Linked DNA regions of Homo sapiens. The protein of the gene in region 1 interacts with the protein of each later gene in a pairwise test. Each region holds a gene or a part of one and is shown on either strand. Other genes may lie near its edges.

Region 1 (3,751 bases):
ATTTTTAGTAGACCCGGGGTTTCACTATGTTATCCAGGATGGTCTTGATCTCCTGACCTCATGATCTGCCCACCTCAGTCTCCCAAAGTGCTGGGATTACAGGTGTCAGCCACCACGCCCAACAAGAAAACAGTATTTAAAAAATTTAAAAATCATATAATCTAGATACTAAATCAGCTGCTGAACTGCTGGCCTGGGTACTCACTATTGTGATCTTTAAAATAGCTCATTTGTTCATTTATTGGTTATCTACCATGTGCCAGACAGCGGCACAGCCAGCCACAAGAATGGATTTTTTTCTAACTCTGTGAGCTCTGGACATCATATACTATCTAGGTACCATTTAATTTCTAAATATCAGTAGGCTGCATGGTCAATGCCTGGCACAAAGAATGTTTGACACTGATGCTGATAACGGTGGTGGTAAAAGTAATAACAACAATAGCAGCAGCAACAACAGCAACCCCCATTTACCGAGTGTTTCCTATATCCCATGTATCAGCTAAGCACATTATATACATGATCTCACTGAATCTTCACAATACTTTCAGGTAAATATTATCCCAGTTGTTAGGACCTACAATGCTGGGTTTCTGAAAAAGACACTCTGAAGTTTTCTAGTGAACAGTTTCCTCTGGAACTTACTTTTGATTTACTGTGTCGTATAAGGGCAGACAGCAGTCTGTTTGACTCCCCCATCACACCAGCATGATCTTTGGCTTCACACCATTCCACCAAACGCTCCACTAACTTAACATTCTTTCCCAATTGTTCAGCAGCTTCTGCTATAGGAAAGAAGGCAAACCAAGGAATGAATCACTAACAGACAATCAGTTGAAATAATTCGTACAGATTTGAGAGTGTGAAGGACGTCTAAAAAAACACAGCACGACAATTTCATTAAAGCTAGAACTGCAAATATTCCTTATGTGATGGGCTATTTGCCTTCTTCTGTAACACTGTGAAATTTTATAGAAAATACAACAACAAATGACTTCATACTCTTTTGGTTAAGCCTGCTAGTCTGTTAGTGCTCTGGCGGACTATAATGCAGGGTTCTTAGAAAGACTCTATGCAATCAATATAGAAAAGGGTTTAAAATTTAGAAATAAGTAAATAAACATAATTCATTCCTAGGAGTGGTTCTGACTGCTGTTTCTGCAAACAGAAAAATGCTCTCCCTGTCTGGAAGACAAATTTAAAAAATTTTTGACTGTCACAATAATGAAATTTGATTTCAAAGCCAAGGTAAAAATGGGTATAGAATGCCAAAACACAACACCCCCTGCCGAAACTGATGAATAAAGCAACCTAAAACCAGGACTATAAGTACTAATAAGGAGAGATATGGTATAATTTCTATTTAAAGTCAATTATAGGCTGGACATGGTGGCTCACACCTGTAATCCCAGCACTTTGGGAGGCTGAAGTGGGTGGATCGCTTGAGGCCAGGAGTTCAAGAGCAGCCTGAGCAACAAGCCCCATGTCTAGTGAAATTCCAAAACAATTAGCCAGGAGTTGTGGAGCATGCCTGTAATCCTAGCTACTCAGGAGGCTGAGGCAGGAAAATTGCTTGAACCCAGGAGGCGGAAGTTGCGGTGAGCTGAGGTCGCACCACTGCACTCCAGCCTGGGTGACAGAACAAGACTCTGTCTCAAAAATAAATAAATAAACAAATAAATAAATAAATAAATAAATAAATAATATGTATAAATAAATAATTATAACAAGCATAAAAATTAACAAATGGAGTTCCAAAACCAACTTTTAAATCTTTTATTTGCTATTTTTTATGATTACATAATCCTAAAAGCTAAAAACAAGTCCTTTTTCAACTAGAGGCACATTAAGACTATCATATGAAAAATGCAAGTTGGGGAAAACATTTCTTTTACCTTGTGCATCTATTAACATTCTTAATGTTCCCAGAAGTTTGAACTGAACAGGAGGCATTTCAGATTTAAGAAATTTCAAAACTGCCTCTGTGACCCCAGCTGATAACATCTTTGCTTTATTTATAACTGGAGAAAAAGAGAGACTATGGTTAAAATGGTATTAGCATTCCTGTTGATAAACATTCAATTCAATACAGGTTTATTAAGTATCTTTAAGATCCATGTTTTATTTTTCCATTTAGAAACAATCTTGTCACTTTTTTGTCAATTTTAAGAATGGAATTCAGTTGTTTATGTGTGTGTCCGTATCCTATTTGTGTATAAGCGGATAACAGACAATATAATAATTTTTATGACAGTATCATGGCTTTTTAGATCCAATCCAAAACACTTACTTACATAGTTTGTAAAGGAAATCTGAAAATGTTACCCTCTTACAACAAAAAGCACAATTCCGTTTTTGATCCAACTGTGTTAATATAAATGTTATAGACATTAATAAATGTTACTATCCTATGTAAACCAAATGAATTCAAATGGATTGGATCATCATGTAATTGTACTATTTCATCTAATCAGAAATTTATTTTTAGAAAGTAGGATAAAAGAATAGTTTTAACTATCTTTTGTTGTATTTTCCATAATACAGTGATTTCATGACTTCCAAAGGCACATTAAGGCTATTTTAAAAAAATTGTACATCTGCTTATAGAAAAACAACAACTGAAAGTCATTCTTGAGTGGACTCTGTTAATTGATGTCATTATTCTACCTCAACTAAAGATGCCTAAGGCCTGGTGCAGTAGCTCTCACCTGTAATCCCAGCACTTTAGGAGGCAAAGGTGGGTGGACTGCTTGAGCCCAGGAGTTCAAGACCAGCCTAGGCAACATAGTGAGATCCTGTTTCTACAAAAAAAAAAAATCAGCTGGGCATGGTGGCACATGCCTGTAGTCCCTGTTCCTCAGGAGGCTGAGGTGGGAGGATAACTTGAGCTCAGAAGGTAGAGGCTGTGGTGAGCCAGGACTGCGTCACTGCACTCTAGCCTGGCTGACAGAGTGAGACCCCATCTCAAACTTAAAAAAGCTTAACTATAAAACATGATGAAAATCTAACAGTTCGCAAAAGGTAACAGGATATCTGAATGAAGGCAAAGATTATTCTTGTACAGTCTCACAAAACTTATTTAACATATGATCTCCATTTATTAGCATGAAAAAATGTGAACAATGTGAAGACTATTTTTTTTTAAATTTTCTTCATCAGAGCAGGTTCACAAATCACATACAGTTAATAGCTTCCCCAAATGATGGATTTTATTTTGTACACAGCTGCCTTCTATTCTTAAGTCTTACCTGGAATGGCCAGGTTTCTGAGGGCACTTAGTGCTGCATGCTGTACTGTTACATTTCCATCTTCTACATGTCTGTCCAGTAAATCCATAAGTTTTTCTACAATCCCATTGTCTACCATATGAATACAATTTGCATCTGAAAAAAAAAACACACATCTTTTTCTTCCTCTTTAAAATATCTATAAATACTTTATAATACTGATGTCTGGCTATTATCTACATTAGGGAAAATGGAGCTATACAATAAAATGAATTCCAAATCTTTCTCCCATCAGATTTATAGGTTTTTCTGTTTACTGAGTGAGAAGTGTTAAAAAAAATTCTTAAACTAGATAAAAGTTTTAAAATCAGAAAATTACCAGAAAAATCTTTAGTTTAGAGCCAGATAATATATCAGAAGTAGAAACACATGGTTAGAATGTCCAATATTTTTCATTTATTGTGATGTATGCTTGTGTTCTCCCAATGTTACAGTGATAGTACTCTACCTTTTGCTATCATGGC
Region 2 (3,751 bases), on another chromosome or scaffold:
CTAGCCTAGAAGCAAATGGGTCAGGCTCTTAGAAGGATGTAAGTTAAGGGGAAGTTAAAAGAGGAATTTGGGAGCAATCTGCTCCTTCTGGCTGATGAAAGTCTAGGGATTGTGGGGAGTGCCAAAGGGGCCAGAGACATCATATTAAGTGAGTTGCTCCTTGTTTAAATGAGGCCTTTGGGCCTCTGCTTCACATTCTCAGAACAAATAATGATGGCATGTGGCAAAAGGCAGGCTTCTTCTGCATTGTGGGATATTCAGCATAGAACTGGCTCTCTTTATCAGCTCCTGATTTGCTCTCCCTGCTTCCATACTAGCACTGGATTTTTGCTTATTTAATCTTTTTACCCTCCTTTGTTTAGTTCTTAAATTCCATTTTGTCATTTAACCTGATAACCTACATTTTGGTTGTCATGGAAAACAACATCCTGACTTATAAAACTGGAAGGTTGTTTCAGGACCCAGAAACTGCATCAGGCAGTGCTCAGAATCCACTGTCATCATATTTGGAGCCTCCTCTGGGATGGGTTTCTGAGTGGCCATATATTCCTTTGCAATGAAGAGGAGACTGTGGAGGACAGGGTGACCACTCTGCTTTTAGACATCATTAGTGTAGGGGCAGGTTTGTTGAAGTAGCCTTAAATGACTTTAGTAAAAAGAGTGTATTTTTATTTTTATATTCCAATGGCTGTAGGATCAAGGCCAGAATTAGGATGAACTGGGGAATAAAATAAGTTTTCTTGACTATAAGTTGTAAAATGCGTAGTTTTTAAGTATGATTTTTAAAAAGCATATTTCCTGTGAATAGCAGGGCAGAATTTTACTATGGAAATGAACTTCAAAGGTTAACATGTTTTAATTATTTAGAAAGTGAAGACGGGATTAAAACAGATAAATAGGATTCTACAACAAAAATCAAATGTAAAGAACTACAGAATATTAATTTTGCTCAAGTCTTTTAGCATATTTGGTATTACAAAAGAATGAGTAATATAACCAAGAGAAGAAATCTTCCTTCAGTCTGTAGTTTAAACTTAACATGGATCAATGTTATGCTCAAGCACTTTTAAAAATGCCTGCACAGAATTGTTAGCCATTAATATTTTTTCTTGCTGATTCACCTGTTTTTTAATCAACGCGTCTTTGACAAAATTGTTTATCAATGTCAGGAAATAAACGTGGTCATTTGCTTGAAATGCTAATGTGAAACCACTCAGTGAAAAAGCAATTCTAATCCAAGCTTGCCAATGGCGGTGTTGTCATAGGATCCTATTAAATTAGAATATATTAATCTACACTGTGTGGTTGGCTATGGTATGGGGCAGGGCATTTCGTCTGCCTTTAAATGAGTCGGTTTTTAAAAGTTAAAATCTGGAAATGGAAAAAAAAAGTCTATATGGTTAGTAGCGATTATAGTTCGCAATGCGAACAAAAGAATCTGGTTCCCTTTCAATGGAATTATTTTAATTCATTAAATTATCAGAAAATTCCAGTCCTCGCCATCTATTCCAAGAGCATGCAGTAGGTGGCACCTAAAAGCTCTTTGGAGGCGAACAGGCGCCATTTAAGCAGGAGCAGCAGCCTCTGCAGCAGTTGGCACATCTGAGAAGGCAGAGATTGAAGAGAGTAGGAGGAGCGTGCAGCGGCGGTGACAGTGCCAGGCCGGAGCGGCTCAGGCCAGCGCAGGTGCAGGGGCTGCGAGCGGGTGGAGCGCGAGGGCGCTGGGCGCAGGGAGCACGGCCGGTGGGCGGTGCAGGGCGCACGGCGGGCGAGCAGCTGACAGCATCGTCACGGCGGCGGGAGGGAGTGCGCTGCGCCTGCCTCCGGGAGGAGCCGCATCCACACACCCTGCGCTGCCCTGTCCTGCGCGAGTGGAGCTCTGAAGAAGCTCTGAGCGGAGTTGTGTTCTTCCCCAGGTAACCGATTTCCCCCTTCTGCCGTGGCTTCGCTGCGTCCGCATTGGGGCACGGGCGGCTTTGGCATGATTGTTTGCCAGCCCCTGGAAAGGGATTACCGCTCTCAGGGAGGGCGAGTCAGCGTGTACTGGAGTTGGTAAGAGGGGAAGAAATCTGCATTTCTGTATCCTTGTTAGGGAGGGTGAGCATCATGCTGTCCTTGTCTAAAACATGTTCTTTTTTAAAAATCTGTATCTTACGTATTATTAGGGATTCCTTCCAAAACAGGATTTACCGTTTTGGAAAATTCTACTGTGCAGGTGTTTCTGTTAATGTGGAAGTTTAATGGATTTAGGAAAAGAGTAAGAAGATGTGGTCTAAAGTGAGAAAAAAGCCAAGCACGCTAGGGACTGCCGTTTGGTTCGGCATGCTTTCATCCTCGACTCCTTCACTTCATGCGCTTGGCCGAGACCTGTCTAAATCTTTTGTTTGTCTTCTTAAAGAATGTGTTTCATGATATCTACATGTGCTCCTTTCCGCTTCCTTGTTGTAAGAGCAGAAGATGGGCAAGGGGCTGCATCCAGTCCTTAGTTGTAAGACTGTGGTTTCCCATCAGATGACAATGACTGCTGACAGCTCCCAGGCTCGCCTGAAAAGCAGTGCTGGCTTCTGGCGTTGTGGGAACCTGCCTCTCTCCTTCTCTCTTGAAAAATGCTGTTTTTCCTCTTTAAAACTCCAATTCACATTCTATGTGGGTTTGGGAGACTTTTAAACTAGAAGCTCTGTGAATCATCTGTTACATCCATTGAATGCTGGAATACAACATTGTGGTGGAATTCAGTTTCTTCCTACTGTGCAGAGACACAGCTTGCCTTCCCTAGGAATTTATTTTACATATTTGCCCTCGTTATCTTTTAAATGGATCCCTTCAGATGTGAGAAGCTAGTCCAGCATATCAGAACTTTTCTGCTTCAAACTAAAAATTTTCAAAAATATTATTTTTGAGGAAGATTTTCCAGGTAACGCTAAAAGTCTGGAGCATTTTACATTTCAAATCAGTCACAATGTGCTCCATTTCCAGTGACATTTGGATTTGAGGAGGTGGAGGGGGAGGGAGAGAAAAGGGGAGGATAAAATTAGAATAAATTTAACAAATTTGTAGGGGAATCATACTTTTTTTTCTTCTTGGTTGTTGTCTGAAATTGAAAATTGTCCACAATTTTATCTATCTCTGGAAATGCAGGAGGCTTTGTGGGCTGGGGACAGGAAGACACATAGTTCATTTTATAGAAATAAAAGATACAGTGGCAAGGAAACATTTTCATCCCATTTAACATATGGCATTTAATTTGGTAATAGTCCCGGGCAAGCACAGGGAAAGGAAGGAGAAAGGAGGGGGTATTGCTGTCTATACCAAGGCACAGAACTGCTGCTCACACTTCAGTGATCCCTGCAGATGGGAAGTATGTGTTCATGGTTATTGTAGAAACCTCCAGAATCTTTCTTTGTTACAGCTTTAATAGAATTGTTCCTAAGAGGCGACTCAGAAAACATACAGATTGAATGCCAAGTTGTGGAAGTCACTTTTCAGCTTGTGTCTAACAACCCAGCATTCTCAGCAAAGCAGTTTCCTCATGAGAAGAGTGGAGGAGACCTTTTTTTTAAAAAAATTATTTATTGTATGTTGTTCGTATCCTATACACCACACATGACTTTTACTGTATTGGAAATGTATTATTTCAGTGGTAAATACTGCATATCTTACTGAAAAATTAAAACCTTTTAAAAAACAACTGGGGTGCTTTTGTCAAAAAGAGAGTGTATCTGTGATAATAAAAAGTATTGTTCATTCTTCT

Evidence for each region.
Region 2: the proteins of RAP1GDS1 (region 1) and DIRAS2 interact in binary tests that used the Homo sapiens proteins (3 or more experiments, as listed by UniProt).

The regions. Positions count from the first base shown.
Region 1 is NC_000004.12:98,418,289-98,422,039, reverse strand, and holds part of RAP1GDS1 (rap1 GTPase-GDP dissociation stimulator 1), read right to left. Parts: intron 3,384-3,751; coding exon 3,249-3,383; intron 2,022-3,248; coding exon 1,896-2,021; intron 786-1,895; coding exon 646-785; intron 1-645. UniProt on the Homo sapiens protein: Acts as a GEF (guanine nucleotide exchange factor) for the Rho family of small GTP-binding proteins (G proteins) that stimulates the dissociation of GDP to enable subsequent binding of GTP.
Region 2 is NC_000009.12:90,640,917-90,644,667, reverse strand, and holds the start of DIRAS2 (GTP-binding protein Di-Ras2), read left to right. Parts: upstream 1-1,843; 5' UTR 1,844-1,916; intron 1,917-3,751.